2 linked regions of the Homo sapiens genome follow. The protein of the gene in region 1 purifies or fractionates together with the protein of each later gene. This does not show direct contact. Each region holds a gene or a part of one and is shown on either strand. Other genes may lie near its edges.

Evidence for each region.
Region 2: the proteins of SMPDL3B (region 1) and FARSB fractionate together in Homo sapiens (co-fractionation; one large-scale study listed by BioGRID). This does not show direct contact.

The regions. Positions count from the first base shown.
Region 1 is NC_000001.11:27,944,690-27,948,507, reverse strand, and holds part of SMPDL3B (acid sphingomyelinase-like phosphodiesterase 3b isoform 1 precursor), read right to left. Parts: intron 3,277-3,818; coding exon 3,063-3,276; intron 1-3,062. UniProt on the Homo sapiens protein: Lipid-modulating phosphodiesterase. Active on the surface of macrophages and dendritic cells and strongly influences macrophage lipid composition and membrane fluidity. Acts as a negative regulator of Toll-like receptor signaling.
Region 2 is NC_000002.12:222,649,574-222,653,391, forward strand, and holds part of FARSB (phenylalanine--tRNA ligase beta subunit), read right to left. Parts: intron 1,327-3,818; exon of another isoform or gene 713-1,326; intron 1-712.

The sequences.
Region 1 (3,818 bases):
CCATGAATCAAAATTCTTGGGTCCACCTTAGAAATGCTTGGCAAGGGGAGGAGAATGGTGGCAGGTGGAGTGTAGGGATGGGGAGACGTCCGGACAGTCAAAATCCTGGGGCCTCTGCTGCCCAGGTATTCCCCCAGGGAAACTAATTAGCATAATAGTATTAATACTGCTGCTAGAAGCTCACACCGGCTGACTTTCTGCCAGGCACTTTCTGTGTGTTGTTGCCACAGCCACTAATTTTTTCCCCATTATAACACTGCAATGTAAATTCTATTATTAGTTTAGGCCCGTTTGACAGATAAAGAAACCAAGACACAGAAAAGTTAAGAATTTTGCCTATCCTAAATCAAGCACCAGAGACACGGGGGAAAAATTGTACCTAAGTGTACACCACTAGAAAGTGGTGGGGCCAAGATTTGAGCCCAGTCAGCCTGGCCCCAGAGTCTATGCTCACAGCCACTGCATCCTATAGTGTCTCTGATACCCACATTAGGGCAGCAAGAGGGGCTGTTTTGCCCTGAAAACTCCCTGGGGACAGGCCGGAAACCCAAAGACACAGGGACAAAATTTCATATTTTTAATTTCTAGGTTAGAGAATCTAATTCTGTCTGATAAAAAACACACCTAGGCCGGGGGCGGTGACTCACGCCTGTAATCCCAGCACTTGGGGAGGCCGAGGCAGGCGGATCATAAGGTCAGGAGTTCGAGACCAGCCAGGCCAATATGGTGAAACCCTGTCTCTACTAAAAATACAAAAATTAGCCAGGCGTGGTAGGGGGCACCAGTGAGCCGAGATCGCACCACTGCACTCCAGCCTGGGCGACAGAGCGAGACTCCATCTTAAAAAAAAAAAACAAAAAAACACCTAATTTCTTTTTTTTTTTTTTTTTGAGATGGAGTCTCGCTCTGTCACCCAGGCTGGAGTGCAGTGGCGCAATTTCGGCTCACTGCAACCTCCGTCTCCCAGGTTCAAGCGATTCTCCTGCCTCAGCCTCCTGAGTAGTAAAACATACCTAATTTCTAATGGCCATCCTCAAAGGGACTGCAGCTCTCTTAGAAGTCAAATTTTATTATAATTGAAGAATTGTAAAGGGTCCTAGAGATCTTCTCATCTGATGCTGTGTACCTCTTCAAGGTCTCAGAGATTTCCCAGGAAAAAAAGGTGCAACTGTGGCCGGGTGCAGTGGCTCACGCCTGCAATCCCAGCACTTTGGGAGGCTGAGGCGGGCAGATCACCTGAGGTCGGGAGTTTGAGACCACTCTCACCAACATGGAGAAACCTTGTCTCTAATAAAAATACAAAATTAGCCGGGCGTGGTGGCGCATGCCTGTAATCCCAGCTACTCGGGAGGCTGAGGCAGGAGAATCGCTTGAACCCAGGAGGCGGAGATTGTGGTGAGCCAAGATCACGCCATTGCACTCCAGCCTGGGCAAAAAGAGCGAAACTCCATCTCAAAAAAAAAAAAAAATGTGCATCTGTTAAAGGATCATGAATTTCCTGAGGGATCCCATCTGTCTGAATGCTACACATGCTCTCCCTTCTCGGAGAAATCAGAAGCTCCCCTCAAGGGAGCAGGCCCAAGGTCATGGACCAAATCTCACTCTCTTCTTAGATTGATTCCTGAGCCCAAGGAAGCCAGAGCTGTCCAGGCCCCTCCTGAGACAATGTCACATGTCTTCTTATGTGTCCAGCCTGGCAGGTTCATCTGAGGGTCCTTCCTGGTCACACCCACAAACCACATCACAGCTAGGGGCATCATGGGTTTCACCCTGCCTTATAGAAGTGTCCACTGAGGCTGGTAGAGGGAGCGCAAAGTCAGAATTCCTTCCAGCCTTCCTCGAGAGCTCCCCTGCTCCACCACCTCCTGCAGGATGTCCTTCCCCTAATCCTGCCAGATGGGATCATGTGCCCTGTGAAGTTCCCACATCCCCCCAGGTGACTCTCTCTCCTTGCTTGGATGTAAGGGTAGGGTCAATGGGTTTGTCTGCATTGCCCACAAGAACGTGAGCTCCTTGGAGCCAAGTGTGGGTGTCCATCATCTCAGATCCCTAGCATCTACCCCACAACTGAGCACGACTTGTTGCCCTGCCAAGTGAGGGAGCAAGCGAGGAGATGGGGGTATCTTTTTTTCTTTTTCTTTCTTTTTTTTTTTTGAGACAGAGTCTTGCTGTGTCACTCAGGCTGGGAGTGTAGTGGTGTGATCTTGGCTCACTGCAACCTCTACCTCCCAAATGCAAGCGATTCTCCTGCCTCAGCCTCCCGAGTAGCTGGAACCACAGGCGTGCACTACCACGCCAGGCTAATTTTTGTATTTTTAGTAGAGACGGGGTTTCACCATGTTGGCCAGGATGGTCTCAAACTCCTGACCTCAGGTGATCCACTGCCTCGGCCTCCCAAAGTGCTGGAATTACAAGCATGAGCCACTATACCCAGCCGGAATGGGGGAATCTTGAATGATAAGGAGGCAAGTTCCCAGGAAAGTTGAAGGAATTAGAGCAGCAACCTTGGACAGGAAGCAGAAACTGGGTCTCTGCGGCTGAGTGGGATCGGCCCTCAAGCTGTCACTCTGTAGAGCAGAGCTCTGACTGGTGAGAAAATCCAGGACCACTGGGCAGCCCAGGGGTGGCCAGCAGCTGGCCAGGACACTAGGACCCCAGGCTGGGCCACCTTCAGCCCTCATAACTTCTTCCCTCCCTGCACTTGGACCTCTCAGACTTAGAGTCCCTAAGCCCCAGGGGAAATGGCTCCAGTGTCCACCCATAGCTTAAAACCTGGACACTCTCCGGGTGCCCAGGCATGCCAGGACCACGTCCAAAAGCCTGATTGAGAGCTGCGTTCTGCCACAGCCAGGAGACATGGAGGTCGAGGACACAGACTGTGGAATCAGTTGGACTCAGGAATCCCCGGGCAAGTTACAAAATTCCTTTGAGCTTTAGGTTCCTCAGCCTCACGTGAGACTGATGTGAGGATTAAGGGAGATAATGTGGGCAAAGGGCCAGACTGGTATGTAGCACATAGCAGATGCCTGGCAAAGGGTAGCTGCCACCTCAACTGTACTCACCCAGTCCAGAGAATGAAGTCTGGCTCTGGCTCAATCTCCTTCATGGCATAGATGGAGGAGTTGATGAGGGCCCAGGGAGAATCACAGAGGTAGTCACCCCAGGGGCCTGCGTCGGGCACTGGCTGGGATCCAGCTGATGGGCACACCTGGAAGGGGTCTTTGGATACCTTGTAGTCAGGGTCAAGGTGCAGGTCAGCGATGTGCCAGAACTTCCCTGCAGGGGAAAAAACATCCTCCTTCAAAGCTGGTCTCTCTCTCAGCCTGGAAGCAAGGAAGTCCAGGGGAGCCCTGGGCTGGGGCAGGGGCGTTACACAGGCAAATGGAAGTCTTCTCTGAGCACCCCGGGTTCAGAGAAAAGGCCCACAGGCCTGGCTCTGCCCAGGGACACATTGAGCAGAGCACAGAACAGGCTCAGCTCCATCCCTGAGCGCTGACCTTTGGCAAGGCCCCGTCCTCCTCCCCACATTGGATGGGCAGCCACAACATTAGAGCTCAGGCATTCTAATGAGGGGGCTTGTTTTAAAGCAAAGGCGGGAGAGGGTATGGGTTAAGTGCTCAGGCTCTGAGCCACTTAGGAGCTGTGTGACCTGGGCTATGTCACTTTTCTAAGCCCATTAACTAGAGCCATATCCTCTCATGCTGCAGGGAAATATAACTACATATGAAAATCTGACCTGTCCTGGAATTTCTTGGAAAATTAAAAAAAAAAAAAAAGAAAAAAGTCTGACCTGGATGGAAAAGGCTTACACACCAAAT
Region 2 (3,818 bases), on another chromosome or scaffold:
TATGTAAACTTTCTTGGTATCTTGTGTCAACATTACAGCTGCCTCATCTATAAAATGGTATTTCACAGCCATTATGGCATGGTACTATTGGAAAGATTTAAATGCTAATGCATAAAATGGACCTGGCATAGTACCCTGAGACACAGTGAGTCTACAATAATTAATAGTTTATTAGCAATTAATAAAATAAGTTCTCTTCCTTATTTTAATATTATATCCTACTGTTTAGCTTTTCAGGGTTCTCACATTACCAAAAATTGAACACAAAACATCATTAGCAGTATATTCTAGCGAAAACTGGTCTTAAGATTCCTGATTCAGACACTAAATTTCAATTTAACATCTATGTACTGAGTACCCACCTTATACCAGGCACTGTACTAGGTACCAGGGTTACAAAGATAAATAAAACACAATTCCTGCCTTAACTACTTCCTCATCTAGTAAAGAAGCCAGATGTGTAAATAAATATGACTGTGTTAAGTACAAGGTACAGGGCTGGCACAAAAGAAGTAATCAGTTTCTCTTATGGTCAGCTAAACCTTCACAGAAAGGATGAGTTCGTTAGGCAGAGATTGTGGGGCGTGAAACAGCATGGCAAATTTGGAAACTCTTAAGTAGTTCAACATGGATGAAACATAAAGTTCATATCAGAAGATATGATGGAACAAGGAGAAAGGGGTCAACTAACAATTTGCCCTCTTTCTTACAGGCAGGCAATGGAGAATTATACTGAAGGGATTCTTCGGCTGGGCAAAAACATGATTAGATCTGCATTCTAAAGACTGCTCGCAGAGTAGAGGATGGATTGGAGCAGGGAGTCTACTGCAATAGTACAGATGCGATAGTGAAGACTTCATTTAAAGCAGCACCAGCAAGAATGAGGAAGAAGGGATTAATATGAAAAACGTTAAAGAGGTGGAATGTATAAGGCTCGATGGCCGAATGATGGGAGGTAGGAATAGGGAGTGTGTAGAAGGAGTCTAAGATGACTCCCCGATCTCTGGTTTGGGGGAAAAAATGGGTGGGGATATCATTAACTAGGGCAGGTAGTAATAGGTACCCAGCCTCCAAGACGGCCTGTTCCATGATCCCTGCCTCCTTGTATTCATGCTCCTGTGTGAACTGAGGTCTGCAGCAATCACCTGAGTGAGTCTGGAAGCAGATTCTCCAGCCCAGCCAAGCCTTGAAATGACAGCAACCCCAGCTGACAGCTAGACTGCAACATGGTGAGACCCAAAGCCAGAACCACCTTCCTAAGCTACTCCCCGATTCCTGTCTCTCAGAAATTTTGTAAAATAATAAAGGCTTGTTTTACACTCCTAAGTACCAGAGTAATTTGTTACGTAGCAACAGACTACTAATACTTTGGAATAATTTGTTACATAGCAATAGATTACTAATACAGACTTTAGTCCCTGGAAGTGGTGTACTGCTGTAACAAAAATGAAAAACATGGGAATGGCTTTGGAACCAAGCAGTGGGCTTTGAGGCGTGTAAATGAAAACCTCAAGAAAGAAGCCTCATAGTCTTTGGTAAGGATGCAGGTGAGGACATGGAGGAAAGTGAGGTAATGTTATCAGAAAGCAGAAGAAGAGGAATCCTGGTTAAGAAGAGGCGGAAGGCTTAGCAACACCATTCCTTGCAGTAATGTGGACTGTAAAAAATCAATGGGGTGATGTAACTAAGATTTCCAACCAGTGTTCACAGTGCCACCTGGGTTTTTCTTGTGCTTATGTGAAAAAAAGAGATAAGCTAAAGGAAAGGCTGTTAAACAAAAATGAGCCAGGATGTTGGGGATTTAAAAAATTCTCATCTTCTCCAGATGTGAAACAATGCTAAAATTAAGAAATAACTTCTGAGCAAAGACCAAATCCAAGGCACTGCCAGGAAAACATGGTCCAAAGATAAAATCAAGGATATGACCATAAAATCTTAAGACCCAGAAAGATCAAAGGCACTAATCATTCCAACAAAGGGTGCTATTAAAAATTATAAAGAATGCACCTCATAAATCCAATTAATCACACAATAGGGCTTAATTAAGAGCACTGTTATCAGCAGAAACTCAATATATTTCAGAGATGTGTAGGTGGTGTGGCTTTTGACTAATAAAATGGAAGCCAGTAACATGCACCAAAGACCTTCCAAGTTTTTAGAAGAAATACATATGCAGAAGCATTGCCAGCTAGAATTGAAAGGGATAGAAATAGGATAAAATAAAGTCTTTGAACTCTCAAAATTCTATTAGCAGTAAGTAGACTGAGAAAACCAACCAGCTGTAAAGCACATGCTTTCTAGGGATCACTCAGAGGGGTGGAAACCAAGAGCCTAGAGGGCAGGGCAGACAGCCATGGAGAATTATTCCAGGCCTTCAGACCTAATCAAGAACATCCAACATTTGCCACTTGATTCCAGAATTGCCATGGACCAATGACTCCTTTGTGTCTCCCATTTCCGCCCCTTTGAAGTGGAAGGGCTACAGGAGTTATCCTATGCCCATCCCACCACTGTATGTTAGGTATATGTGGGGCAGATAAATGGTCTCTCGAGTCTCTCAGGCCAACAGTGTACTAAAGAAGCTATACTGAAGGAACTACACCCAAGGAGCCACATCCACATCTGGTCCTGATTTAGATGATGAGATTCTAGATTCTGAGCTGCTGCTGTAATGGGATGACACTTCTGAGGGCCTTGGGAGGGGGTGAGTATATTTTGCATATGGGAGGAACTGAATCAGTGGAGGTTAGAGGGGAAACGGTGGTAGTCAGCCTCCAAGATGGGCTCCAATAATACCGGCCTCCTGGTATTCACACCCTTGTACTGTTCCCTTCCACATTGTGCTAGGATTGGTCTGTGATCAAGAGAATATGAGAAGGGCTAGTGTATCACTTCTGAGCTGTTATTGAAAACAGGCGTCTATCCTCGGCACTCTCTTACTTACCTACTCTCTCGGACCTCTCCATCTGGGGCAAACAAGCTAACATGTGCTAAGTAGTCCTATGGAGAGGATAAGGTGGGAGGAACTAAAGCCTATGGCCAAAAATCAGCAAGGAACTGAGGTTTGCCAACAACCACTTGAATGAACCTGAAAGCAGTTTCTCCAGACCCAGTTAGGCCTTGAGATGACTACGGATCTGGCAAACACCTTGACTGCAATCTGGTAACAGATCCAGAGCAAAAACCACCCAGCTAAGCCAGTCCCCAATTCCTGACCCTCAGAAACTATATAACAAATGATAGCTGCTTTAAGATGCTAAACTTTGGGATAATTTAGTATGCAGTAATAGATAACTAAGTGGTACAGAACTATTAAAATACGCTGAATCCTAATTATCATATGTTTTATTCCTTTCAGCTGTTATTTCATGGGTTTCTATACAAAGAAAAATCAACAATAAAATCGTGATTACTAATTTCCTCTAACGAAATGACACATCAAGTAACCACACCTTAGGGGTGTATATGATATACACAGAAGGTTCTGCCACTACTGCCAGCTATTACACCACGCCAGAACAGGACTATAATTGAAGAGCAGTGATAATAAATCAGTTAACAAGAAAAGGAGTGGCAAGAGGAAACCATCTGCACAGAAAGTCCGTTGAAAAGGTAGACTAAGGAGACAAAACTGCTCCAAAGGAGTCAGAAGAGCAAAATAACCAAAATGGCAAACAGCTTGAAAGAGAAATATCCTTGCTAAGCAAAGAGGTGGTAAAAAGGAAGGTGGGGACTGGTAGAAACAATGGAATTTCAAATAGAAAGCAACCCTTGGAGGGACTAAAGAGAGAGAATGTGGATTTTAAAAGTGTGAATGA